7 separate regions of the Homo sapiens genome follow, and all the other regions are linked to region 3. The links come from fine-mapping of genetic effects on gene expression. A gene starts in region 3. Each other region holds a variant in brackets. All regions are shown on one strand. Distances are from middle to middle.

Region 1 (4,069 bases), 46 kb after region 3:
CACCTGTGACAATGATCTTTTCTCCATATCTAGAAAATATCACCAACTTACAGTGCCGTGTTATGGTATAGGCTCTTATTTCCACTTCCTTTCATCACAGTTCTATTTATTTCTCAATACACAGTTGAAGATCAGTTGAAATATCAATTTCAGCATAACTTCCCATACTTGGGCATAATTTAATAGCTTACCAGACAGTAGCATATAATGTAGTGACTTGGGAGCCAGACTTCCTGGGTTTGAATACGGGATGAAAATTCACCAGTCTTTTGACCTTGGGAAAGTTACTAAACCTTCCTATACACCAGTTTCCTCATCCGTGAAATGAGGCAAATTATAGCACCTACCTCTTAGGGTTGTTATAAACCTTAAATCAGTTAGTACAAGTAAAGGCCTTAGAACAGCACCTGGCACATTGTAAGAAATGTCTAAAGGTTCATTGCTATCATTTATTCATTTCCACATCTCATTCCTAAAATAAAAGGTGTTATAAAATTGCCAGTATAATTAGAAAAAAAATGGGAAAATGTGTTAAAGAAAAATTATAAACAAAATTGAAGAAAATGTAGAATAATACATATATATCTTAGGAGGAAAGCTCTTAAGCATATAGAAAATTAAGAAACTATGAAACAAGATTAACATAGTTGACTATACACAAACTTTAATTGCTAATACAGGCATACTTTGTTTTATGCTTTGCTTTATTGCACTTCACAGAATTTTTTTAGAAATTGAAGTTTTGTGGCAAGCTTGCATCAAGCAAGTCCATCAGCACCATTTTCCCAAAAGCCTGTGCTCACTTTCTGTCTCTGTGTCATATTTGGTAATTCTCACAGTATTTCAAACTTTTAAATTATTATTATATCTGTTATGGTGTTCTGTGGTCAGTGATTTTCCATGTTACTATGGTAATTGCTTTGAGGCATCACAACTCATGCCCATATAAGATGGCAAACTTAATTGATAAATGTGTATGTTCTGACTACTCCAAAGACTGGCCATTCCCCATCTTCCTTCCCCTCCTCAGGCCACCCTACTGCCTAAGACACAACAATATGGAAACTAGGTCAATTAATAATCCTCCATGGCCCTCTAAATGTTCAAGTGAAAAGACTAATGAAGAAGGCATGTTGAAAGTTGAGATAGGCTAAAAGCTAGGCCTCTTGTGCCAAACATTTAGCAAAGATATGAATGCAGAGAAAAAATTCTTGAAGGAAATTAAAAGTGCTACTCCAATGAACACATCAATGATAAGGAAGCAAAACAGGCTTATTCATGATATGGAGAAAGTTTTAGTGATCCGGATAGAATACCAAGCCAGCCACAACATTCTCCTAAGCCAAAGCCTAATCCAGAGCAAAGCCCTAACTGTCTTCAATTCTGTGAAGGTTGAGAGAGGTGAGGAAGCTTCGGAAGAAAAGTTTGAAGCTAGCAGTGGTTGGCTCATAAGGTTTAAGAAAAGAAGCTGTATCTGTAATATAAAAGTGCAAGGTGAAACAGCAAGTGCTAGTGTAGAAGCAGGAGTGAGTTATCCAGAAGATCTAGCTAAGATAACTGATGAAGATGGCTACATTAAGCAACAGATTTTCAATGTAGACAAAACAACCTATATTGAAAGAAGATATCATCTAGGACTTTCATAGTAAGAGAGAAGTCAATGTCTGGTTTCAAAGCTTCAGAGGACAGGCTGATGTGATTCTTAGGGGCTAATGCAGCTAGTAACTTCTAATTGAAGCCAATACTTATTTGCCATTCCAAAATCCCTATGACCCTTAAGAATTGTGCAAAATCTACTCTGCCTATGCTTTATAAATGGAATGACAAAGCCTAGATGATAGCACGGTATACAAATATTTTAGGCCCAGTGTTAAGACCTACTGCTCAGAAAAAAGATTTCTTTCAAAATATTATTGCACATTGACAATAACTTAATCACCCAAGAGCTCTGACGGAGAGGTACAGGGAGATTAATGTTTTCATGCCTGCTAATAAAACATCAATTGTGCAGCCCATGGATCAAAGAGTAATTTTTACTTTCAAGTCTTATTATTTAAGAAATATATTTCATAATGCTATATTTGCCATAGATAGTGATTTCCCCAATGGATCTGGGCAAGGTACATTGAAAGCCTTCTGGAAAGGGTTTACCATTCTAGAAGTCATTAAGAACATTTGTGATTCATGAGAACAGGTCAAAAATCAACATTAACAGAAATCTGGAAGAAGTTAATTCCAACCCTCATAGATTACTTTGAGGGGTTTTAGATTTCAGTGGAGAAAGTCCCTGCAGATGTTGTGGAAATAGCAGGAGAACTAGAATTAGAAGTAAAGCCTGCCTGGGAGGGGAAGGACACGCACCGGAGCCTGTTAGGGGATGGGAAGTAATAGGAGGGAGAGTATTAGGACCAATACCTAATGCATGCGGGGCTTAAAACCTAGATGACAGGTTAATAGGTGCAGGAAACCATCATGGCACATGTATACTTATGTAAACAATCCC[A/G]CACTTTCTGCGCATGTATCCAGGAACTTAAAGTAAAATTAAAACAAACAAAAAAAGAAGTAAAGCCTGAAGATGTGACTGAATCACTACAGTCTCATGATAAAACTTTAGCAAATAAGGAGTTGCTTCTTATGGATGAGCAAAGAAATAAGTTTATTGAAATGGAATCTATTCCTGGTGAAGATGCTGTGAACATTATTGAAATGATAACAAAATTCTAGAATATTTGATAAACTTTATCAGCAGCATCAGAATTTGAAAAATTTGACTTGAATTTTGAAAGAGGTTCTACTGTAGGTAAAATGCTATCAAACAGCATCACATGCTATGGAGAAATCTTTCATGAAAGGAAGAGTCAGTAGATGTGGCAGACTTCATTGTTGTCTTATTTTAGAAATTGCCACAGCCACCCCATCCTTCAGCAACCACCACCTTGATCAGTCAGTAGCTATCATTGTCAAGGCAAGGTCCTCCATCAGCAAACAGATTAAGACTGGCTTGAAAGCGAAAGTGATCATTAACATTTCTTAATAAAACATTTTCATTAAGGTATGCATTTTATTTTTTAGAAATAATACTATTACATAATTAATAGACTATAGTATAGCATAAACATAACTTTTATATGCACTGGAAAACCAAAAGAATCATGTGACCTGCTTTATTGTGATATTTGCTCTATTGCAGTGATCTGGATCCAAATTTGCAGCTTCTGCAAGGTATGCCTGTGTAGGGAAAGGCAGCACAAACTAAACTACAATAGAAGCGACAGAGCACAGAGCAAAAGAGTATACTTTTAACATATGTGTTAAATAAATGTTTAATACACACATCAAATACAGAACCTCTAGAAGTCAATATAATTTAAAATGCAAACACATAAAATAATAAGCAAAACTCTAAATATTCAACATAAATGATATAAAAATGTCCTATAAACCTTTAAAAATACTTATTTAAATAACCTGCAATAACTTTGCCCCTTAAATAGGGTAAATTTATATAGATCAGCACTAATTTAATTTTGGCATGTATTTGAAGAAATGATAAATATTACACATTGTTTATGATGGTATAAATTGCAATATTATTAAAAGGATACATGGAATCTATTAAAATTTTTGGAAGTGGATATATCTTTTGATTGATTTGATTGATACAGCAGTTCGTCTTTTGTGTGTCTTATACACACATATACATAATATACACTTAGGCAAACACATTTCAGACATTTGGATTGGGATCCTGGCTGCTGCTTCAACCTCATCTAATTTCCTATTACACCTCCTCTCTCTCCCTTTTTGTACATTTGTCCCTCTCTCTGATTTCCACCATCTGTCTTTCCAGTTTACTTTCTCTAGTTCCAGACAACAAAAATTCTTTAATCCCACTGGGATCTCCAATCAATTGATTCAATCAACTTTTCATTATGCCTCAACCCTTTGATCTTCTAATCTAACTTCTCATAACTCAAGATAAATTCCATGGGAAATCCTTAACAATCACTTCCACATATACATCCTTAACTGCCTGCCTCCCTCTTATTGCTTTTACTTGTTTGGAAAA
Region 2 (4,069 bases), 470 kb after region 3:
CATCTTCAGGATGGTGGGTGCTAATAGGGAGGCTGAGGTGGGTGGATCACCTGAGGTCAGGAGTTTGAGACCAGCCTGGCCAACATGGTGAAACCCCGACTCTACTAAAAATACAAAAAATTAGCTGGGCGCAGTGGTGCATGCCTGTAGTCCTAGCTACTCGGGAGGCTGAGGCAGGAGAATCACTTGAACCTACGCGGGAGGTGGAGGTTGCAGTGAGCCGAGATCACACGCCTGGGTGACAAGAGTGAAACTCCATCTCAAAGAAAAAAAAATACATGCATGATGAAACACACTAAGCAGTTGGGTCAGAGGGGAATTATCAGTAGCAAGAAAGAAGCTGGGCTGGTGACTAGCACCCGGAATTTATGCTCTCTTTCTTCATGGGCCTGTGCGGTGGTACGTAGGCTGCGGGATTGACTTTGAATTCTTCCTGGCTGCCACAGCAAAGAGACAGGATCAGGTTCTTGATTCATGATGCCCTTAAGGTGTTAGGGGAAGAAAAGCAAGCGTGAGACCAGGCGCGGTGGCTCACACCTGTGATCCCAGCACTTGGGAAGGCTGAGGCGAGTCTATCCCTTGAGGCTAGGAGTTTGAGACCAGCCTGGGCAACACAGACATCATCTCTACAAAAAGTAAAAAAATGAGCTGGGTGTGGTGGTGAATGCCTATTGTTCCAGCTGCTCTGGAGGCTGAGTTGTGAGGATTGCTTGAGACCAGGAGTTTGAGGCTGCTGTGAGCCAAGATCACACTGCTGCACTCTAGCCTGGGTGAGAGAGTGAGACCCTGTAACCAAAAAAAAAAAAAAAAATCAGCTGTGGAAAAGCATCACGTGTTTCCCCTGCGCTGAGGCTGACTCTGCAGGGCTACTGATGTGCATTGGTAACTGCTCATGTCTGTCCTGTTCACAGATCTGCCGGAGGCGCTGGGCAATGACCCCGGGACTCCAGGCCAGAGGGGTCTGAAGCTGTTTGGGAAAGCAGCGGGACTCCTTGGGAAGATGGCCATGGCCCCAAGCCCTTCCCTGGTGCAGGTGTACACCAGCCCCGCAGCTGTGGCTATGGCAGGATGGGCTGGGCACCTGGCACCCCTACAGTGCCACCATCTGCAGCTTCATCGAGCAGCAGTTTGTCCAGCAGAAGGGCCAACGTTTTGGGCTTGGGAGCCTGGCCCACAGCATCCCCTTGGGCCAGGCAGACCCCTCGCTGGCCCGTTACATTATTGACCTCCCCAGCTGGACCCAGTTCCGCCAGGACACCGGTAAGACGCTGTCTGCCTCTCGCACATATCTGGGCGCCGCACCTGCTTTCCCACAGGCTCTGCGCCAGGTGTTGGGGTGATGGACGTGACTTACAGAGCTTCTGCTCTCTCCCTGCAGCACACGTGGTGGTGGGTGGGTGCAGTGAGTGGGAACATCCACATAGGTTGAGTGCAGCTCACAGTGGGAGAGGCACTGTGGGAGGCCCTTCCCCTTGTCTTGCAAAGCAGAAATGCCTGTTCCGACCACAGAGGTTGAAGGGTTCCTTTGGCCGGCAGGCCAGCATGGAGGTGGTGCGTCATAGGAGTTCAGAGGGCCCTGTCCCACCACTCAGTGGCTGTGTGCCCTGGGCAGGCAACTGCGCCCCTCTGCGTGTGTGCGTTTCTGCTTTTTGGTCTGCGATGTGTTTTGATCTTTTTTTTTTTTTTTTTTTTTTTTTTTTGAGACGGAGTCTGGCTCTGTTGCCCAGGCTGGAGTGCAGTGGTGCAATCTCGGCTCACTGCAACCCCTGCCTCCTGGGTTCAAGTGATTCTCCTGCCTCAGCCTCCCGAGTAGCTGGGATTATAGACATCCGCCACCACACCTGGCTAATTTTTGTATTTTTAGTAGAGACGGGGTTTTGCCACGTTGGCCAGGCTGGTGTCGAGCTCCTGACCTCAGGTGATCTGCCTGCCTCGGCCTCCCAAAGTGCTGGGATTACAAGCATGAGCCACCGCACCTGGACCTGCAGTGTGTTTTGATCAGTATTATTGAGAATGAGGCACCAGTTTCCTCTCGGAGCCATCCCTTACTCTAATCTGGTGGTTGTCACTGGGGGTGATTTTGTCCCCGGGGCCATCTGACAATGTTTGGAGACACTGTTGGTT[G/T]TTACAGCTGAGTGGGTGGGAGGTGGGGGTGCTCCTGGCATCTGGTGGGTGGAGGCCAGGGATGCTGCTCGCCATCCGGCAGTGCACTGGGCTGGCCCTGCAGTAAGGAATTATTGGCCCACAGTGTCACCAGTGAGGAAACTTGAGAAACTGGTTTTTCCTTTTTTTTTTCAATTTTAATTTTAGTTTTATTTTAAAAAGTATGGGTTTTTTTTATCGTGTTTGTTTGTTTGTTTGTTTGTTTTTTGTAAAGACTGGGTCTCCATCGCCCTGTGTTGCCCAGGCTGGTCTTCAACTCCTGAGCTCAAGTGATCCTCCTGCCTTGGCCTCCGAAAGTGTTGGGATTACAGGCTTGAGCCGTCATGCCCAGCCCTGGAAACTGTGTTTCCAGGAGTGTCGTAGAGTCTGTGAAAACTGTGGCTGTCAGTCAGCTCCCAAGTCATTGCCTTCACAGTGTGTGAAGTCAACTGACAAAGATAGCAGACAGGATAAATAATAACATGGAAATTGCATATCGTGGCAGAGAGCAGGAAGTGTTAATCGGGGAATGAAAGTGGCAGGTGTTGTAGAGGTCGATTTGAAGTTAGGTGGGTGTGGTGTCATGTGCCTGTAGTCCCAGTTATTTAGGAGGCTAAGGCAGGAGGATCGCTTGAGCCCAGGAGGTCAGGGTGGCAGTGAACTATGATCACATCACTGCACTGCAGCCTGGGTGACAAAGGGGTACCCTGCCTCTAACAATAAATAAATAAACAAATAGCAGCATGACTGTGTACCTACTGTGTTCCTATTTGTTTATTTTGGCGGTTGAAAAAAGAATTTGAACGTTCCCTGTATCTTGGGGATGCTAGCAGACTAACCTTTGGTTTTCCTTTGAAAACAGGCACCATGCGGACTGTGCGGAGACACCTGTTCCCCCAGCACTCAGCCCCTGGCCGAGGTGTCGTCTGGGAGTGGCTGAGCGACGATGGCTCCTGGACCGCCTATGAAGCCGGCGTCTGTGACGATCTGGAGCAGCAGGTGGCCAGGGGCAACCAGCTCGTGGACTTGGCCCCCCTGGGGTACAACTACACTGTCAACTACACCACCCACACGCAGACCAACAAGACTTCCAGCTTCTGCTGCAGCGTGCGGCGCCAAGCAGGGCCGCCTTACCCAGTGACCACCATCATCGCTCCGCCGGGCCACACAGGCGTCGCCTGCTCTTGCCACCAGTGCCTCAGTGGCAGCAGAACTGGCCCTGTATCAGGCCGCTACCGCCACTCCATGACCAACCTCCCTGCATACCCCGCCCCCCAGCACCCCCCCCACAGGACCGCTTCTGTGTTTGGGACCCACCAGGCCTTTGCACCATACAACAAACCCTCACTCTCCGGGGCCCGGTCTGCGCCCAGGCTGAACACCACGAACGCCTGGGACGCAGCTCCTCCTTCCCTGGGGAGCCAGCCCCTCTACCGCTCCAGCCTCTCCCACCTGGGACCGCAGCACCTGCCCCCAGGATCCTCCACCTCCGGTGCAGTCAGGTATCGTGGGCAACGGCCGCTCGTTTTGTCTGCCCTGTGTTTCTGCTCTTAGCTGGGAAGACTCACCCCAATTCCTGCAGATGCGGCTCCTGCCCCCTAGGTGGTCCTGCCGTGGCATCTCATTTGCATGTGGCATGTGGGTGCCGAGGTGCCGTGGCCGTCCAGAGCCTACCTGACCCCTTGTACCTGAGTCCTGGCAGTCACCACACGGGTTAGAATCTACAGTCCTTTCACTCACGATGATTAAGGGCCTCCACATGGAGCAGTTAAAGGCCTGTGGCCTCTGCTTGCGGGCTGCATGGCGAGCATTGTGCCCGAGAACACTGGGTCACTGCCTGTACACTGACTCCCGCCTTGTGCCAGGCCCTAAGGACCCAGAGACCAGAGTATCAGCCCTTACCCCTGAGCCCTAGTCTAGTGCAAGG
Region 3 (4,069 bases):
CCAGCCTGGGCGACAGGGTGAGACTCCATGTCTCAAAAAAAAAAAAAAATAGCCAGGCACGGTGGCTCACGCCTGTAATCCCAATACTTTAGGAGGCCAAGGCAGGAGATTTGCTTGATCCTCCCAGGAGTTAGAGATCAGCCTGGGCAACATAGCAAGATCCTGTTTCTATAAAAAATACATTTTTAAAAATTGGCCAGCCGGGCGCAGTGGCTCACACCTGCAATCCCAGCGCTTTGGGAGGCTGAGGTGGGTGGATCACCTGAGGTCAGGAGTTCGAGACCAGCCTCACCAACGTGGAGAAACCCTATCTCTACTAAAAATACAAAATTAGACAGGTGTGGTGGCACATGCCTGTAATCCCAGCTACTCAGGAGGCTGAGGCAGGAGAATCACTTGAACCCAGGAGGTGGAGGTTGCGGTGAGCCAAGATCGAGCCATTGTACTCCAGCCTGGGCAACAAGAGTGAAAACTCCGTTTCAAAAAAAACAAAAAAAAAATTGGCGGGGGTGCCAGGCACGGTGGCACATGCCTGTAATCCCAGCACTTTGGGAGGCCAAGGCGGGTGGATCACTTGAGATCAGGAATTTGAGACCAGCCAAGCCAACATGGTGAAACCCCGTCCCTACTAAAAATACAAAAATTAGCTGGCCGTGGGGCACATGCCTGTAATCCCAGCTACTTGGGAGGCTGAGGCAGGAGAATCGCTTGAACCCAGGAGGCGGAGGTTGCAGTGAGCCCAGATCACGCCACTGCACTCCAGCCTGGACAACAAAGGAGACTCCATCTTAAAAAAAAATTAATTAAATAAATTTTAAAAATTAGCCGGAGCATGGTGTTGTGTGCCTGTGGTTCCAGCTACTGGGAAGGCTGAGGTGGGAGGATTAACTGAACCTGGGAGTTTGAGGCTCCAGTTAGCTGTGAACTGACCTCCCTGGGTGACATATATATATTTAAGCCACTGAGCTGTGAAGGTTGTGAAGGTATGTGAGTTATGTCTTGAAAAATACACACATAGTGAGCGCCAAATCCCGGGAGTAGTGTTTAAGTGGCGGGCTTGTCAGCTGTCAAGGGCTCTGCAGCCCTTTCTCTGAATCCAAGTTCTTCTTCCTGTGGACAGGGAACCCAGGCTGCGAACTGGGAGGATGTGGCCTCGTGGGGGGCAGGGCCAGCGTGCTGTGATGGGGATGGGGCTGGGCAGGTTGGGGCTGCCTGCTACTCCCCACTCCTGACTCTGGGTGGGGACAGAAGGCAGAGGGAGGCTCCTGGCACCTGGGGCACAGGAATCTCAGGCATGTGGTCCTGAGCCTGTTTCCAAAAGCCAGACCCTCCTCCCCAGGGCGGAGAGACTGGGAGGGGCCCCAATCCAGGCTCCGGGATGGCCTGGCTGGCATCTGGGGTTCCAGTGGCCCCTCTCCCTTGGCCCTGGCAGTGGGGCTGGATACTGGCCTGCCTCCCACCAGAGTCCCCCCAGCTCCTCCCTGCTGTGGGCTGGCCTGGGAGGAAGGGGGTGGGGTGCACTTACATTTGCAGGTCTTTCCAGCCCCTGGGGCAGCCTGATTAACCAGCTTCTCCAGGGCCAAGCTGTTGGGGGTGAGGTGCAGCCCGAAGCAGCCAGACCAGCCCCTGAGCCTCCCGGGTGCTGGCAGCTGTCATGGGGCTACCCTGGGGGCAGCCTCACCTAGGGCTGCAGATGCTCCTCCTGGCGTTGAACTGTCTCCGGCCCAGCCTGAGCCTGGGTGAGTGGGGGTCCTGGATGGACGCGTCCAGCCAGACCCAAGGGGCTGGGGGCCCTGCTGGAGTGATTGGACCCTGGGCGCCCGCCCCCCTCCGATTGGGAGAGGCAGCCCCAGGGACCCCCACGCCCGTCTCCGTGGCTCACCTTTTGTCCCCCGTGGCCACAGAGCTGGTGCCCTACACACCACAGATAACAGCTTGGGACCTGGAAGGGAAGGTCACAGCCACCACCTTCTCCCTGGAGCAGCCGCGCTGTGTCTTCGATGGGCTTGCCAGCGCCAGCGATACCGTCTGGCTCGTGGTGGCCTTCAGCAATGGTACGGGGACTGCTGTGGGGCCTGGGTGAGGGTGACGGCTGAGGAGAGTGGTGGGCCCTAGGAGCCCCTCACCAGCAAGCGCCTTCAATGATTGAGCCCCTGTGGGGGCCTTTGGGAGAGTAGGTGTGGATGAATTGGGCTTTATCTAAAGGGGTAATATGTGTATTGAAAAATACACACGTAGTGAACACCAAATCCCGGGAGTAGTGCTAGTGGTGGGTTTGTCAGCTGTCAAGGGCTCTGCAACCCTTTCTCTGAATCCAAGTAGTTCTTCCTTTGGACAGGGAACCGAGGCTGCGACCTGGGAGGATGTGGCCTCCTGTGGGGCAGGGCCGGTGCACTGCAATGGGGCTGGGGCTGGGGCTGGGCAGGTTGGGACTGCCCGCTGCTCCCCACTCCTGGCTCTGGGTGGGGACAAAAGGCCAGAGGGAAGCTCCCCTTCAGGGGTAACAAAGTCGACTGGGTCTGGACTATCTCTGGGGGCCCTGAGGGAGGAGGTGGCATGGGGGGTCAGGGCTGGAGACTGGGCGAACACAGAACCCCCACTCATAAGGACAAAGCTGCTTTCTCCCCTCCCACCTCCATCTGTTCTCTCCTCCTGCAGCCTCCAGGGGCTTCCAGAACCCGGAGACACTGGCTGACATTCCGGCCTCCCCACAGCTGCTGACCGATGGCCACTACATGACGCTGCCCCTGTCTCCGGACCAGCTGCCCTGTGGCGACCCCATGGCGGGCAGCGGAGGCGCCCCCGTGCTGCGGGTGGGCCATGACCACGGCTGCCACCAGCAGCCCTTCTGCAACGCGCCCCTCCCTGGCCCTGGACCCTATCGGTGGGTGGTCCCCACCGGAGCCCTGGGACTGGGGCTGTGCTTGGGGCGGACGCATTGCTGGGACCAGGGATGCTCTCTCTAGCATCTTTCCAGGGAGGGGTCCCCGGCCCCGGTCCTCCCCTTTGCAAGCCCGGGCTCCTTCCACTGTAGAGTCAGCAACAGTGCTCACCCCCGCTGGGGCCGGGCAAGGCCCAGGAGGAGCAGGTGGGCACCTTGGGGAGGCGGGATCTTAGTCAAGGTGGGAGGGGGCAGCTTCCCCAAAGTCTAGGCCCCTGTCCCCCACCACGGGCAGATCTGGCAGGAAACTCGGGGGCCGAGTTCAGACCCAGTCTCGTCGGTATTAGGCAGGGAGCAGGAGAGGTGGCTCCTACCCGCTCTTACAGATGAGGAAACTGAGGCACAGGAGGTCAAGTGGCCTGCCAACATCGGGGTGGAGCCGGGATGGGGAAGCAGGCAGTGTGTCCAGGTCAGGACTGTCCGGACACAGGAGGAGGCGGGGTGACCTCAGGAAGACCAGGCCCAGGGGAAGCCGGGAAGGCAGGGCGTGGTGAGGCTGGAACAGCACCCCGCTCCGCCCAGCCCCCTTCTGCCCTCTCACCCACTCTCCAGGTCCACCCTCTGCCCTCCCCGCTGCCTCACCCTGGCTCAGCCTTCCAGCTCCATGCCCCGCCCCATCCCCCGCAGCCACTCTTTTCAATGCCAACCTGCCAGGTCCTTCCCCGCTTCCCAGGCCTTGCAGAGCTCCCAGCCCTGCAAAGAGACAAACCGAGGCCCTCTGCGGGGCTCCTGGTGCCCTGGGTCCTCAGGCTGCTGGTGATTGAGCCCCCTGCCCCCGGCTACTGCTGCCCCTCTGGGAGGCCTGTGACCCCTGCCCCATGTGCCCTGCTAAGCCACCTTCACCTGCTCTTTTGGCTTGTGACATTTAGGAACCAGGGCCCCTAAACCAGCATCCCCGGCCCAGGTCTGGTGTCTGGAGAGCAATTGCTCGGGGGGATGAGGGGTGGTGGCACAGGCCAAGTGGCTGGAGACATCTCAGGGGATTCTCAGAGCAGGGCCAGGCCATGGGCTGCTGCTCTTGACGGGCACCCCCACTCCACATCCATGGGAGGGCCCCAGAGGAGCTGCCTGGGGCTTGGCCCTGCCCAGGGTGGTCCCAGCCTCTGAAGCTCTCCCCTCCTCCCCCAC
Region 4 (4,069 bases), 310 kb after region 3:
CATTTCAAGGCTGTTTGTGATGCAGCATCCTGGCTAATAAACCAGCCAGGTCTATTCTAACAATTGTAGCTCAGAGTAAAGAATGTGGGCATCTCATCAGCAGACATGATCACTAAAAAGACAGAGAAAAGATACAATGAGAAAACTATAAGCAAACTCTTGGAAATCCAACGAACAAAATAGAAGAAAGAAGAAAGATTAAGAAATTTCTAGAAACATCCTACAGTGGTCGGGAAGACTGAGATATTAAGCCTAGGAGATAAAAATGGACAGGCAGATTCATATCATGCTTAAAAAGAAACTGCAAATGATTGAGAAGTTTTTTTTAAAGTGGAACTATTTCAAAAGTAAGAAATTAGTAAAGGGACAAAGTTGTTAATGCACCATAAACAAGTGATCAAAAGCAGAAAAAAAAATGAACTGCTGTGGAAATGGACACAGTGTGATCCTATTTTTAGTGGACTACTTGAGTTTTTTAAAAAATTAGGAGGAAGGTAAAAGGTTCAGAAAATAGAAACAGAAGTGTAAATAATACTATGAAATGGGCCTAGCTGAAACAGCTCACTTTTCAAAAGAATACATTAAATGAAGAATACAGAATGAGATCCTTAAAAAAAGAAGTCAGGAAAGTATTACATAGAGTAACTGCAAAGGCCTTCTCTCCTTATAACACGGAAATTGATGTATTTGAGAATAAGGGTATTAAAAAAGATCTTTAAGAGTCTACAGGAAATAGAAGAGCTAGGACAAAGCATGGATGTCATGTAGAATATTTTATGATAAACTGCTGACCTGAGCCAATAATTCTTGGGCTGGGGAAAAAAACTGTTTCTCTATAGATAGGTGGGTGGGGGTGAGGGTGGGGAGGGAAAATTGTAATGCTTACTTTCTAAATAGATTTCAAAGGAATGCGGGAGAACACAAAGAGAACTAGCTTGCATTGTTTTTTTTAATATTAGCATTTTGTTGATAAAACAGAAAGCAGGAAGAAAAATAATGAATCATGCATATAGTAATAAAAAAGTGTGGTAGGTGATTAACGTGTTAAGAGTCAAGGGAAGAACTCATCAGAAGAGTAAAAGAAGAGAACTGAAAAGCAAAGGGGGACAATCAACAAAATGTGAACATACAGTTTATACGAGGAATGCAATCATACAGGTACCAATAACTCAGTTGCAAGGAATAATTGAAATATGCACATATATAAAAAGTACACATACTTTGTATAACTTGAAAAACATTTGAGGATCAAATAAAATAATGTATTCGAAAATATTTATAAAAAGCATGAAGTTTTCTACAGACAAATTAGTGGGTGCAATACTGAGCGCTACTCCTTGAAGGTGAACAACATAGAAATATTGTTCAGTGCAACTCAACAAATGTTTATTTAACGACTGCAATGTACTGAGCAAATTTTAGGCTCTGGTAAGACACATCAGTAATGAAGACAAACATATGCATTAACTATATCAAGCAGGACAAAGGGCTCTAAAGAGAATGAATGCAGTTCTCCAAACAGAGATCTCTGCTGTCACTATTGAATATCTTGTAAACTCTCCAGAAACGTGTATGTGCAAGCATGTGTCTGTTTGTG[CAT/C]ATATATATATGTGTATATTTTAATGCTACACATTTGAAGATACCTTATTACACTATTCATGACTTTGTGATTTTCTCTTAACACAGCAATTTGGAGATTACCCCCTTTCAGAACATAGAGAGAGCTACTTCATTTCTCCCAATAGCATATTTTATTGCATGGTTGTGCCATAATTTATTGAATTACTGGCCTTTAATGAACAATTATGCCATTTCCAGTCCTTTCTTATTCATGTAATGCTTATTCATACTGTGCTTTACATATGGGCTAATATACCTGTTAACACAAATCTTGAGAAGTGAAATTTCTGTCACCCGGCAAGTGAATTTTTAATTTTGATACATAGTGCCAAATAGCCTTCAAAGTGAAACATTCACTTATATTCCCACCAACAGTGCACAAAATTGCTTTTGTCCTCAAACTTCCTGCCAATGCCATTTATTATCAAACCATTTGATCCTTGCAAGTACAGTAACTAAGAAGCTATCTCATTGCTGTTTGAATTACAAACTACAAATCTCATTGTAGTTTAAAATACAAACCATAATGGTCTTATTATGAGCAAATATGAGTAGGTTTTTACATATTTAAAACTCTTTTGAGTTTCTCTTACTGTGAATTATCTGTCTATAATCTTGGCCTATTTTTAAAAATTAATAAGTTAGAAGAAATGAGCCAATTTTCATATATCTTGGCAGGTTTTTCCAGTTTCTTATTTTCCATTCAAATTTATTTATGGTTGTTTTAAACCATTTTGACATTTTGATCTTTTTTTAATTTTGAGATTATTGTAGATTTATTTGCAGTTTTAAGAAATAATACAGAGAGAATTCCATATACCTTTCACCATTTTCCCTCACTGGTAACGTTTTGCATAACTACAGGACAATGTCACAAGTAGGAAGTTGACACTGACACAATGCATCTACCTTATTCAGATGTCAGATTTACATTCACTTGTGTGTGTGTGTTAGTTCTACACAATGTTGTCACAGTGCAATTTCCTGTGTGCACTACTGTGGTCGAGATACAGACTTGTGTTTCATCGCAAGGATTCCCTTGCTACCCTTTTCTATTCACAGTCCCTCCTTAAGCCCTGACAAGCACACATCTGTTCTCCATCTCTATAACTTGGTCACTTCAAAAATGAATGGAATCATGGAGTCTGAATGGAATCATGGAGTATGCAATATTCTGAGATTGGCTTTTTCCACTCAGTGTAATTGTCCTGCATTTGTAAAAAAATTGGCATTTCGAATTTTGGTACTATGCTATTTAGCTTAAGGTTCATACCAAACTTTAATTGTAGATTTAAACTTTTTCATTGTCTTTCGTTTGGTAGTTTCATGCAGTTTTCCCTAAAGTGGACCTTGTATAATTTTAATAAAATTACTCTTGCTTGCTTTTAGTTTTAATTTGTTTACCTATATTTTGCTTCCTGCCTTTATTGATTTTAGATGAATATCATAATAGCACCTGTGTCATTTTGTGGTCCAAATTGGTGGTCTTTTAATGAGCAATTTTATCTCATTGATATTTACTGATATGGCAATTAGCTGTGGCATTTTATTTCAAGTTCTACTTTCTGTATTTAATGCCATTTATTTTTGCTATATTGTCTATATTTCTTGTATTTGCATGTTTTACTTTTATAATTTGGAAAGCATATTCTCTTCTTCAGATTTTCTGGTAGTAACATAATATACACATAATATACACATATAAATATATATGTATACATTTAAAGAAAGGACATGAGAAATGCACATACAATTCTGCAAAAGAACAAATAGAAAAAAGGTAAGAACACATCAAAATATTTAGTCGTAAAAGACATGAAAATTATAAGAAAACCCTTCTCTGAGAATTCAAAGAAATTTTTTAAAAAGTCTTCTGATACATATATATGTATATATGTATGTGTATATATGTACACATATGTGTATATATGTGTATACATACATGCATATATGTATGTGTATATACATGTGTGAGTATATATACATGTATGTAGTATATATACATGCATATATATGTATGTGTATATATACACATATCTATGTATATATGTATATGTATATGCATGTATATATGTACATATATATACACATATATATGTATCAGAAGACTTTAAAAAATTTTCTTTGAATTCTCAGAGAAGGGTTTTCTTATTTTCATGTCTTTTATGACTAAATATTTTTGATGCGTTCTTACCTTTTTTCTATTTGTTCTTTTGCAGAATTGTATCTGCATTTCTCATGTGCTTTCTTTCTGTTTGTCTTTGTTATTTTTGTTGTTTTTCCCCAGGCCAACTATGCATTAGAGGATAATGTTAGAAAGCACATCAGTGGAGTGAGTTAGATATTCAGGTAGCTTGCATTCAAATTTGTGTCTTGAAATGTTTCCCAACAAAAGACTGTCCTAGAATTTGATTTTTCTCTGGGATAAACTTTCCATATTATGCAATCA
Region 5 (4,069 bases), 330 kb after region 3:
TCTAAAGGAGTTGAAAACTTATGTCCACACAAAAACCTGCACACAAGTGTTTGTAGCAGCTTTACTTGTAATTGCCAAAACTTGGAAGTAACCAAGATGCTTTTCAGTAGATGGATGGATTAATAATTCAGCCAATGGAATATTCAGTGCTAAAAAGAAATGAGCTGCCAAATCATGGAAAGACATGAAGAAAGCTTAAATGCATATTACTAAATGAGAGAAGCCAAACTGAAAAGGCTGCATATCCAATGATATGACATTCTGAAAAAGGCAAACCTATGGAGACAATAAAAAATAAAATCAGTGGTTGCCTGGGGAGGGGGGCAGGAATGGAGCATAGAAGATAGTTAAACTACTCCCTATAATTCTATAGTGGTGGATACATGTCATTATACATTTGTCCAAACCTATACACAAGGAGTGAACCCTAAATTAAACTATGGACTTTGGGTGATAATGATGTGTCAATGTACGTTTATCAATTGTCACAAATTTGATACTCTGGTGAGGGTTATTGATAATATGGGAGGCTATACATACACAGGGGCAGGGGAAATACAGGAAATCTCTGTACTTACCTCTCAATTTTGCTGTGAACCTAAACTACTCTAAAAAATACAAAAAAAAACCTCTTTCTAAAAAAAAACTCTTTAAGTTGAGGAATGTATCTTCTTCATTGTGTCCCCGGTAGCTAGTACAGTGGCAGAATTGATGGCTTTTAAGTATAGCTAATGACTGAAGGAGCATGTTATAAAATATTTATTAAAGCCTGTTCTATAATATTTGGCAGGTAATAGACATTTAATAATTATTAGATCATAGCTGATGATTTGACTCTTGACAGAACTAATTGCTACTTACATTTAAATAATGCTAATTAGAATGACAGGCTATTGGAAAGCATGCAGAAGAAACATATGGAAGTTAATAAACCTAGAGTCAAGGCCTGCCCTTCTCACAGTTATTCAACCCTAATAAATAGCTTTCTCTTGCTGACTCTCAGTTTCCTCACTTATAAAACGAGCACATTACCTACCTCATAACGCTGTTGTGATGTTGTGATGACTAAACATTTCTTACAGTTACTAAGTGGCTCTATGATCACTTCAATAAAACTATGTGCCAAGTTTCTATGTAATGATAGCCTGAGAATCCCCAAAAGTATTGGTTGCTTTCCGACCAGTCAATAATAGCTTACTAATTTATCTGGGATCTCATGTGACTTGCTTCGTCTGTTCCAATAAATTTAGCATAAATTCAATTTGTTCAAAACCCACTACTACTACTACTATCTAACATTTCTAGTATGGCTACTTTGTACTAGGTTCTTTTCTAAGTATTCCATGCATTCATTCATGGAAACACTTTTATTATTACATTTTGCAGTTGCTAAAACTGCATTTTACGTAAGACAAAATTATTTTCCTGTGTTTATACAGTTTGTGAGAAGCAAAAGCAAGTTGTATACCCAAGTTTGCCTGATTCCAGAGTCAGGTTAGTTATCCACCATATTATAACAACACTCAGGCAAAGTTTACATGTCTAGTTAATGTCAATAATGGTATAAACAGGAATTAGGTAATAGGCCATTTTTGGCTCTCTTAGTGAGATAGTAATTAAACATTTTAGCTGAAATTTCTCTTTACTATAACATACCACTTGATAAAGCATACATTAATTCTAGTCTGGTTTTGCTGTTGAGAAATTATCTACATTTACTACCTTATTATAACATATTATTCTTTTCATTTTAAAAATGGCCATTAGGTTTATCTTACTTATAATACAAAGTGTACTTTATTTATTTTTTAACTTTTATTTTAAATTTAGGGGTATATGTGCAGGATGTGCAGGTTTGTTACATAGGTAAACTTGTGTCATGGGTATTTGTTGTACAGATTATTTCATCACCCAGGTATTAAGACTTGTATTCATTAGTTATTTTTTCTGAGTGTATTTTAATAGAAAACTAAACACTAATGAAATCACTGAAGATATCATAGGAATATAAAACCCTCAAGAGATGATTTAGAGTTTTCCATTTTCAGTTCATGGAAGGCAAGGTTTCCACTCAACAGAGAAAGTACAAAATGGCAGTCATCAGGACTAAAACATTACAACTGTAGAAGTTACACAATGTAAAGCTTCTGATATTATAGGCACAAATTACATCATGAAACCATTTCACTAGA[G/A]CACATTAGTAAACTCAGTTTCCAACGGATTTCCCTTGGGGCCCTCGCCGTATTGAAACAATCACTATCTTAAGAAGAAAAATGTGTTCATTTGTTCCCATGAACCAGCACCTAGCATACCTGTCTTCCACATCATAGGTATCCAATAAATGTTTCCTGAATAAGCAAATGAAGAATGAATGAATGAATGAATGAGGAAATAGGGAATTCAAATTTCTTCCAGTCTTGAAAGGATTGATAGTCTATGTGGACAGAGCATAGATGTAAATAGATTTTTAAGAAAACAAGGTGCAGACATGAATATTTAAAGAACTTTCTAAGGACTACAACAATTGATAGAAACTATCTCAGAGATCTGTGGGGCAGGATGTAACTCCGAAGGCTTGCTATCCACTTATAACCTCTTCCACTGGCTAAGGGAGACAGTAGGGACACACTGCATAGAAACAGGAAGAAAGCAATAATTAATGTTTTTTAAAGAAAACCATTAATAGTTAATTAAGAATTAAGGGCCCATGGTCTCTGAGGTTGGAGTCATTTCAAAGTACTAGAAAAAATGAGCATAGGGAAGAAATCATATTCATAAGTACCTTGCTCTAATATTTCCAAATGTACATCAAGAGAAACTGTTGCAACTTGCTGACTTTAAAATTCTAGCCTTCTCTGGCTTCATGAAAAACTTGCTAGCCTCCTGCAAAGTTACAGTTCAATCTGCTTCACATTGGGTAAAACAATACCCAAGGTACAGAGGTGCTGAAAGGCTTAGTTATTGTTAGTTATGGGAGTTGACAATCTTGAATAAAAAGCACTCTTAGTGCAAAGTAGAATTGTAATCAGTGTCATTGTCATTTGAACCACATTGTTTGCAGTGTAACCAATTGTGAAACCAACATAAATTCAAAAACTAAATTAGAAAAACAGATGCTTCTTTTGTTTGGAGATTTTAGTCCCATCTAGCCATATTGTATATCATTTTCTTTGACTTACACCACATAGAAAGAAAAATCAGAGAGCATAATACAAAAATGCAGAAACATATTTAGCAAATTTGTGGATTTCATAAGTCATTTATAAACTTTGGATTTACAAACAATTTCAAAGGCTTTTGAAAATATTTTTTTTTTTTTTTTTTTTTTTTTTTTTTTTTTTTTGAGACGGAGTCTCGCTCTGTCGCCCAGGCTGGAGTGCAGTGGTGGGATCTCGGCTCACTGCAAGCTCCGCCTCCCGGGTTCACGCCATTCTCCTGCCTCAGCCTCCCAAGTAGCTGGGACTACAGGCGCCCGCCACTACGCCTGGCTAATTTTTTGTATTTTTAGTAGAGACGGGGTTTCACCGTTTTTTTAGCCGGGATGGTCTCGATCTCCTGACCTCGTGATCCGCCCGCCTCGGCCTCCCAAAGTGCTGGGATTACAGGCGTGAGCCACCGCGCCCGGCCTGAAAATATTTATACACACAAGAATCTCTATAATACTACATATAATTATACCATGGCTTTTCCAAAGCATATTCCAGAGATAGACTTTCGGCAGAATATCAAGTTTCCTATTTGGGGTTTGTCTTGGAGACAGTGAACAATTTATTTTTCAGTCTCTGTCTCCACTGATGCTTGTGATTAAGATAAATACATTGGTGCAATGAGAGAAAAGAGATTTATCTTGTACATAATTTCTAAATTGACTTGTGACATTAGGAAGTCGATCTACCCAGAGTGGAATTTGTTTCTTCAGTTCACTGAAGTTCAGTTCTTCAGTTCACTAAGTTCCAACTAATTTTTGTTTCTCCACAGTCTCAACTATTTTTTAAGGAAATTGCGAAGTTCACTTTTAATGTTTCTGAACTACCAGACTTCCTATGATTTAAAAAATAACAACTGTAAA
Region 6 (4,069 bases), 170 kb after region 3:
TTCTGGAATAATTTTATCATACTATATTTGACCACACATTTATTATTATGTACGATTTCATATGCTTAATTTTAATAGAATAAAAATTTATATTTCATTTTCCCCATGTGCTTATTAACGATTTATATGTTCTCTTTCTTTAAACATCAGATCATATTCCTTGGCCACTTATCTATTGGAATTATAGGATTTTTTGATTGATTTCTGAAGTCTTCATTTATTAATATTGTTACTATTAATAATATTGATATTTCATCTAATGTGACCTACTTAATTGTATTAACTTTGTATTCTTTTTGAACAAGGTTCTAACTTGATGTACCAAAAATCCATTTTTACTGTAATATACTTAAAATGATAACCATCTCATTATCTTGTGATTTAATGAATTATTATTTTTATTTCTCCCTGAATTCATGTTTGAATGTTTGCATCTCATATCTTATTTTGGAATAATATATGAGTTGAGTATATAAATTCATTATTTTCTAAATAGCAAACTGATTACCAAAACAGTTTTATTAAATAATCTGTCTCCTTCTCACTGGTTTGTGATACCTCTATGACTGTAGTAGTTCTCATGGAAGATAAGGTCTAATTCTTATAAATATGTTTTGTAGTGTTCATCGAGGTCTATCTAATTTTGTTAGTACCATGTTCACTTAAGTATTATAGTTTTATAACATTTGATGTCTATTATGTCTTGCTCCTCATTTTAATTTTTTGAAAACTAGCTCTCCTCATATGATTTAACATATGGAATTTGAAATTTTAATTTCCAGTTTTTCAAAAATTATTTCTTTTATTTATAATGAAATTACATTAAATAAATAAAATAATTTAGCATGAAGATATATTTAAATATACATCCCTCTTGCTTGAAGCATGGTGTATCTATCCAACTTCTTAAGTCTGCTTTAATTCTCTCTATATTTGGTAGTTTTCATTAAATATACACTAGACGTGTTTCATTGAGGTTACTTTTAGGTATTTTGTTACCACAAATGGGAATGCAATTATAGGCAAAGCAAGCAGAAACATACGGCTTTGATGAAAGCTCTAATCTCAACACTGTCCATATATATTTGACCACATCATTAGACCTATAAAAGTTTGCATTCAGGCAATACTCCAGATTTTATTTGATCTCATTTCTTGTTTTGAGCCATCTGGCAAGTATTCACAATTATTGATGGCAAGAATTTCTCAAACTGGATCAATAAAATGTCTTCCTTCCTAAATCCCAGTGGAATACACTGAGGACTGTGGGGAAGCTGATTTACTTAAAGATTCCGACAGTTCTGTAGAGGAAGTAAGAATGGAGGAACTAAAAGCTCTGTCACAGGCTCACTGTTCCATCTATACTTTCCCTTCCTCATCTCATTCTCACCCTGAGCACCAACCACCATATGATGTAGCTGCTGTCCAAATATAAATTTCTAGTCCAGGTCCTCTGATGAACCATAGCATAAATATATCTTCACTCAGACAAGCTCAATTTGTCCAAAACTGAACTCAAAATAATTTTGCTCAAGTAGGTTACTTCTGCATTCTATATGGGCAATGGCACTACTATCCCCCCAGCTGGTTATGCCTAAAAGAGACTATCTTAGTTTTTTGTTCCTTTTTATTTCCCCAAGAGTGTAGTCTCCACGTCTCCTTAACATCTCCTTAGTGCAGAACCTCCTCTGCATCCTATCTGCTACTGCCTTGGTTTAGGGCCCCGTTTTCCCTCTCCCAGGCCTGAGCAATAGTTTCCCCACACTTCCTCCTCTATAGTCAGCTACTCCCACCATCTATCCTTCCCACTTTAGACAAAGGGAACTTTCTAAGAAGCAAATCATTGTTGTTGACTTTTTCTCCCTTCCAAAATACTTCAATGGCTCATTATTAACTTAAGGAGAAAAAGTATTCTATTTACCTGGACAACTATATAATATCTTGCGTATTACTCATCCTGCTAAGTAACCCTTAGTTAAGTGAAAGCATTTGCATTGCTAAGGTAGTAACAGGAAACAGAGTGAAAGAAAATAGTCTGCCGAGCCTGGTGGCTCATGCCTGTAATCCCAGCACTTTGGGAGGCTGAGGCAGGTGGATCACAAGGTCAAGAGATCGAGACCATCCTGGCCAACATGGTGAAACCCCATCTCTACTGAAAATACAAAAATTAGCTGCAAGTGGTG[C/T]GGGCACTACTTGGGAAGCTGAGGCAGGAGAATAGTTTGAATCCAGGAGGCAGAGACTGCAGTGAGCCAAGATGGCGCCACTGCACTCCAGCCTGGCAACAGAACGAGATTCCATCTCAAACAAAACAAAACAAAACAAACAAATAAAATAGTCAATAATCAGGCATTGAACATTCAGCTAGGAAACCTGAGGGAATCAGCACAGTTTATACCAGAATCCAGCTCCCACTCCGGGAGAGATAAGAAGAAGACTACTACTGAGGCTTAGGACAGTGTAGAGGAATGAGGAAAAGCGACCTAAAATTTTCGTGTCTGGGAGAAGAGGGAATGAGCAGTGGCTGAGGGGAGCAGGAGGTCAGCATGGAGAGAAATAAGGAGACAGTTTTGGTGGCCAGCTCAGGGGCTGTGTGAAATCATTGAATGGGAGTCTCACCAATGGCAGAAGCCAAGCCAATGCCTGATTTTTGTGCTTACCTTCAAACTGCCTGTTCCTCTTCTTCCTGTCTTCAGTGGTTTTCCATCAACAGCATGCCATTTGTGGTTCATTCAGAAAAATGGCATTCTGGCCCCATGACTTTGCTTACTTTTTATACAGGCCACTTGGCATGGCCATTCTCCAGTCCCTTTTAATGGTCCAAAACATTTAGAAGACTAAGAAACAGAGAGTGAAGTGAAATTAAGTCCTGAAAGAGCCTTGTGTATCAGGGAAATCCTCAGCACTCCTACTTGGAGGGACGGCACTGCGATTAAAGCACTTCAGTGACATGTGCATACACTTAGCTCTCCAATGTGACCTGTTCCTGTGACCTCCCTTGCTTCAACCTAGTCACCTGTTCTAGTTACCCGTAGATACACCAGGTGGTGGGAAACTTTGACAACTTCACCAGCACTCTTCCTTCTACTGAGAAACTCCCTTCCCTATCCCACATAATTTTCCAGTGCACACGTTAATCTTGCAAGATCATATCTTTTTAAAAAGTGTCTGTCTCTTACCTTGTCATACACATGTAAATAAAAAGGTGCAACAAAGTTTTTGGGTATTGACCCTCCCCACCATTCCACCCACCCACCTCCACTCACCTGTGGCTCCAGCCTCCGGAGCTTATCCATCTCTCTATTACAACAAGTACTCCTTCAAGCAAATGTTGAATAAATGAATGAAAGGACAAACAAATAAATCTGTTCTGTCAATCCTTAACAGCCAGCTGAAGGCTTAAATCAGAGAACTTAAATTGCCCCTGAAATAATCACTGCAATCTGTACTACTCTTCAGACAATTCCCTATTTCTGTCAACCTACCCCTAACTCAATATTTAACTGATTTCTAACTTTGTGTCTCAACTACGTGATGCTTTCCAAAACTAGAATTACCTTGGCAGCTAGGTTTACAGACTTCAAAGAAACCTGATGCTGCTATGGATGGAAATAGGGGGCAAGCTGGTTTGTGTGGTGAGTGCCAAGGTTAAGTAAATAGACATAGTGGAGCCAAACATTCACCTGCATTTCAATATGATCAGATTTACACACACACACACACACACACACACACTCTTAAAGTTAGCGATTTATGCTATGAGAATGAGAATATTTTAGACTTGAGGAAACTCAAATTTAATAAAACCTGTAAGATGGCTGGCTATGACTTTATGTAAGCTGAATAAACATATCTTCATTCAGACTGATACTTCTGCCTTTCTTCTTTGAGTCTCTAATCATCCAAAGCCAACTTTTCAGTTCCTGAATGCTACAAATTATCTTCTATGAAAGTCATTGTTTTGTCTATGAAGCTTATCATAACTTCAGGGAATTTCACATTTGCATTTCTGATGGACTACAGTCTAAGGTGTTAGAAAATTGGTTTCAGCTTTCCCCACCTTTTTTTTTTT
Region 7 (4,069 bases), 290 kb after region 3:
ACTAATATTCATAAAAACAAATGTTGTCTACAGCCAATGTTTCTAACTCTTACCTGTCAACATTAGACAATTCAATCTGACTTCTTGCCTTCCTACTCCAATAAAACCATTTTTTCCAAGTCACAAATGACTTCCACATAAATCTAAAGAGCATTTTTCAATTCTCATCTTACTACACTCCTCAGCAGCATTCCAGACTCTTAATCATGCCTCTTTCTTGAAATATCACGTGGCTCTTATGACTTCATACTCTCCTAGATTTCCCCCTCTCTCTGCAACCACATCTCAAGCTCTTTCAACAGCTCCATTGTTTCATTTAAGCTGTAAACATTGGGATTGTCCAGAACTTTTCCCTCACTCATCTTATCATCTCTTCTCTACTTACTACTATCTGTAATTGACCTCATCCAACTTTGTGGCATTAAATACAATCTATTTGCTTACAGTTCCCAAAGTTCTATCTCTAACTAAGATTTCTCTTTTTGAGCACCAGACTTTATATCTGACTGCCTTCTTGACTGCTCTACTTGGATTTAATCTGAATGAAACTAAACTCTCAAAGAACCCCAACAACCTTTTCCTCACTCACCCTGCTCATCTTGGGAACCCATCTCCTCACAGTTGTTCACATCGGAAATATAGGAGTCACTCTTGATTTATTTTCCTTCCATCAATTTCTAAATGAAATGCTTCTGTAGAAAATTGCTTTTACCTTCCAACTACATCACTAATTCACTTTTTTTGTTTTTTAACATTTTTCCCTGTCACCGCTATAGTCTAAATACTGTCTTCTCCAGCATGGAATATTTCAGCAGTTTCCTAAGTCGTCTTTTCCATTCATGCCCTCCCAATTATTTTTTTTTTAATCTAGAAAGCATCTATAATGAGCAGTAAAATGTTAAACCCTGAGGATGTCACTGTCTGGCTTATAATTCTTCAGAGCCTTCCTACTGAACTTGTAATAAACTTCACTCTCCTAAACTTGCCTCCATGTTCCTCAGTGATCCAGACCTGCTGATTTCTTTGTTTTTATCTTGTGGCCCACACTCACTCAGCCCCAGCAGACTCCCCTGGCTATTCTCCCCATATGCTGTTTCCTCCATCTAGAAAGCTGTGCCCTCTACTCTTCATATCCAGGCTTCTTCTCATCCTCCAAGTGTCATCTTACATGTCAGTTTCCCAGAAGAACCTTCCTGACAATCCAATCTAAATTAGTTTGTCACTCACCTTTTTGTAGTCTCTATCATACTATTTTTCTTCATAGAGCCTATCACAGCTTGTGTTGTGTGTGTGTGTGTTTTAACAACCACACATGTCTAGTTTAAACAATCATACAACTAGTGCCTAACAATTTACCTGGCAGTGAAAATGCTGCAGTCCCCACCATCATAATCATTAAAGATAGACTAGTGTTGTATTAACACGGATGATCTGTATACAGTATGGACAATAAGCATGCATAAGGTCACAGTAGAAGTTTGGATAACTGGTATCAATCATAGGGTAATTTGAGAATATAGTGAAAGCAAAGCAGAGAGGGAAAGTATAGAAGAAAAGGGAGGACTATGGTATGTGGGCAACCCTGGGGATCAAAGTGAAAATAAAGAAGATGCAGTAATTCACAGAAAATCAAACCCAAGGAATAAAAAACTAGATTCAGGCATGTTTTAATATACTGGAACATCTAGCCCAGTGTTTCAGGATGGATGTAAAACATCACTTCTGAAATAATGCCGACAATTCTGTTCAGTCTGTTTAATTAGCTTGTTAAATTCACGATATTCAGTTTAGATCATGGTAGATCTAAATTAGGGAATGCTCTGGAGGAAATACCATGAGTTGAAAAAAATCTCCTCTCTCCTGATAGGGATCTGCCTTAAGCTACTGAAGGTGCCAGGGCCCTGGAGGAATCCTCAATGTCTGTGGTAAATGTTTTGGTGGGCTAGGTAATACCCAGTTCATATAGCCAAGCAGTTTGAAGATTGAGCCCAGCTCAGGTGGTGGACCCTACTTAGCCTAAACCTGTAATGGTCATCCCTCAAGATTTCACATTTAAGCCATGGAAATTGGCTAAAGGAGTAAGCATGTGACCTTATTTGGGCCAATCAAATGAAAGTAAAAAATTTGGAGGGATTCTGGGAAATGTTTCCTTATTAGTAGTTGAGAAACACAGGAAGGTATAATATTCTTCCCTCAGACTTTGTTGCATGCAGATGTGAGGTCAGAGACTGGTTACCACTTTAGGATAAAACCAGTGC[C/T]CAGAGGAAGGGAGAGCCAAGGGAATTTCAGGGGAAAGAGACTCATCACCAGAAAGAGCAACCCTAAATCAGGCCTTCTTTAGACTCCCAGTTAGGAGGGCAATGAATATTTTTGTAGGTTTAGCCAATTTAAATTTGACATTCTCTTATTTGCTATAGAAAGCATCTTAACTAATAAAATGTCCAAGAAATACATGTATGAGGAGGGAAAAAAAAACACCAGGTAGGCTGTTTATAAAGGCAAATTTTGGAAGGTGGCAGGATGATCTGTTATCTCCCCACACTCCAGCCTTTGGGTTACAGTGGGGAGAAAGCTGCTGATAGTTTCCTGACCTCAATGGTTCAAGCTGTAGCAGAACTAGAATGGGCCAGGTAGTGACTATATTTCTCTCATGTTTGCTGAACAAGGACACTTTATTACCCTAACTTTCAGTGGACATTTTTAATTTTCCTAAATGAAGAAAAAAATGCAAAAAAAGAAAACACACATGTAAGTTTAACCACATTCAATAAGCATAGCACTTGTCATCAGATAATTGTAAGACATTGTAAAAATAATTCTAATGGCACTTATAATAACAACAACAATAGAAATATCAACAATAATAGCAAACATTTAGATAGGCCTTACTATGTGCTGGACACCATTCTAAACACTCTCAATGTAATTAACTCCTTCAGTCTGCATATGAAGTAGGTATTACCAGTTTGTTAAAATTACTGATAAGGAAACCAAGACAGAGGAAGTTAAATGACTTGTCCACGGTCATACCTCCATTAAATGGAAGACCCTGTTTTCAAAATGACCATTGTATTCTAGAAGCTAGGGCTTTTAAGCACTAACCAAGATTGTCAGTTATTGTGGGTATATAAATTGAAAGAGATGATGAAAAATTGCTTTTGTGTTCAGGGAGCTCACAGTTTGTTGTGCTCTCTGTAAGCTCAGCCAGTAATAAGAATACTTGCTTCCAGTTTTAAATACAGTAGAGACAATGTCTATATTATGTTATGTCATACATTCCACAATATTTTTGTGACTGTTGGCGATTTCTTATTGATTGCTTTGTCAATATAATTTTATATTTATGCCACCCAAAACCACTTCTCATTTTCAAGCTACATTAAAATAATAAAGGACATAAACTGCAATAAGCATTTCTAGGGGATTAAATATTTTCATCACTAATTTTACCCTATAAGAGCATGATACATGCTTCATTTAAAGTTTTAATTACCAACAAAATTTTATGTTTTATTATTCCAGAGACATATGAAGCAGTTTTATCACATGAGCCTTAAGTATCCTCTAAGAATCAGCAAAAAAGAGATTGTTTCCTAGGTCTACATAACCGATGGCTACATTATTATCCATAAAATCATTCGAGAAAACTTCATGTGTGGCAGTATGAGCATGTAGACTGTAAAATATCAAAAATGACTCTATTTCATATGCTAACAGGAATAGTCCATCATGCAGTTTAACCTGGGACATTAGATAGCTTTAAGTCTTTTAAGCCTAAGTGAAGAAGGGTATTGCATTAAAACTCCCCTCAAGCTTCCCTGCAGACACTTTGAGCATACCATCCCTATCATCTTGGAGAGTAGATGTAACTAGGTAACTTCCCCAGCTGCAGTAAACATTTATATATGTTGGTCTTCTGCTCCCAGAGGCTTCCCAAGCTGCTCTGTCAAATCTGTTAATGTAGAATAATCAAGCCAAGAAGAAAGACTGCAAGGAACTGAGTGCAAATCAAAAATGAAGCAGAGAAGACAGGAGTAAGAATGAAAATGATTAAAGATCAATTGATCGT

The links. PIP is the estimated chance that this variant, and not a neighbour inherited with it, causes the effect.
Region 1: its variant is the best candidate, but not a certain one, in a credible set for the expression of UPK3B in transverse colon (GTEx, PIP 0.80).
Region 2: its variant is the best candidate, but not a certain one, in a credible set for the expression of UPK3B in monocytes after R848 (Quach 2016, PIP 0.70).
Region 4: its variant is the best candidate, but not a certain one, in a credible set for the expression of UPK3B in tibial nerve (GTEx, PIP 0.88).
Region 5: its variant is the best candidate, but not a certain one, in a credible set for the expression of UPK3B in monocytes after Pam3CSK4 (Quach 2016, PIP 0.89).
Region 6: its variant is the best candidate, but not a certain one, in a credible set for the expression of UPK3B in whole blood (INTERVAL, PIP 0.73).
Region 7: its variant is the best candidate, but not a certain one, in a credible set for the expression of UPK3B in whole blood (TOPMed, PIP 0.79).

The regions. Positions count from the first base shown.
Region 1 is chr7:76,555,400-76,559,468 of GRCh38, forward strand. All of the region lies in intron 2 of LINC03009 (long intergenic non-protein coding RNA 3009), which reads left to right. Among named protein-coding and RNA genes, the nearest start is that of LINC03009, 8.1 kb to the left of the region's middle. The variant A/G (reference allele first, on the strand shown) is at 2,504.
Region 2 is chr7:76,977,617-76,981,685 of GRCh38, forward strand. It overlaps the pseudogene DTX2P1 and the pseudogene DTX2P1-UPK3BP1-PMS2P11. Among named protein-coding and RNA genes, the nearest start is that of SPDYE17, 53 kb to the right of the region's middle. The variant G/T (reference allele first, on the strand shown) is at 2,125.
Region 3 is chr7:76,508,999-76,513,067 of GRCh38, forward strand. It overlaps UPK3B (uroplakin 3B), which reads left to right and starts at 1,554. Exons shown (of 6, transcript NM_001347684.2): 1 at 1,554-1,739; 2 at 1,905-2,054; 3 at 2,659-2,884. The coding sequence starts at 1,655. It overlaps LOC124901675 (a long non-coding RNA gene), which reads right to left and starts at 1,735. Exons shown (of 2, transcript XR_007060388.1): 1 at 1,526-1,735; 2 at 1-1,110. RefSeq lists a silencer at 1-141 and enhancers at 1,019-1,591, 1,592-2,164, 2,918-3,569, 3,570-4,069.
Region 4 is chr7:76,820,991-76,825,059 of GRCh38, forward strand. No RefSeq gene overlaps it. Among named protein-coding and RNA genes, the nearest start is that of POMZP3, 200 kb to the left of the region's middle. The variant CAT/C (reference allele first, on the strand shown) is at 1,598.
Region 5 is chr7:76,843,590-76,847,658 of GRCh38, forward strand. No RefSeq gene overlaps it. Among named protein-coding and RNA genes, the nearest start is that of SPDYE17, 190 kb to the right of the region's middle. The variant G/A (reference allele first, on the strand shown) is at 2,193.
Region 6 is chr7:76,675,734-76,679,802 of GRCh38, forward strand. No RefSeq gene overlaps it. Among named protein-coding and RNA genes, the nearest start is that of POMZP3, 50 kb to the left of the region's middle. The variant C/T (reference allele first, on the strand shown) is at 2,184.
Region 7 is chr7:76,797,567-76,801,635 of GRCh38, forward strand. No RefSeq gene overlaps it. Among named protein-coding and RNA genes, the nearest start is that of POMZP3, 170 kb to the left of the region's middle. The variant C/T (reference allele first, on the strand shown) is at 2,259.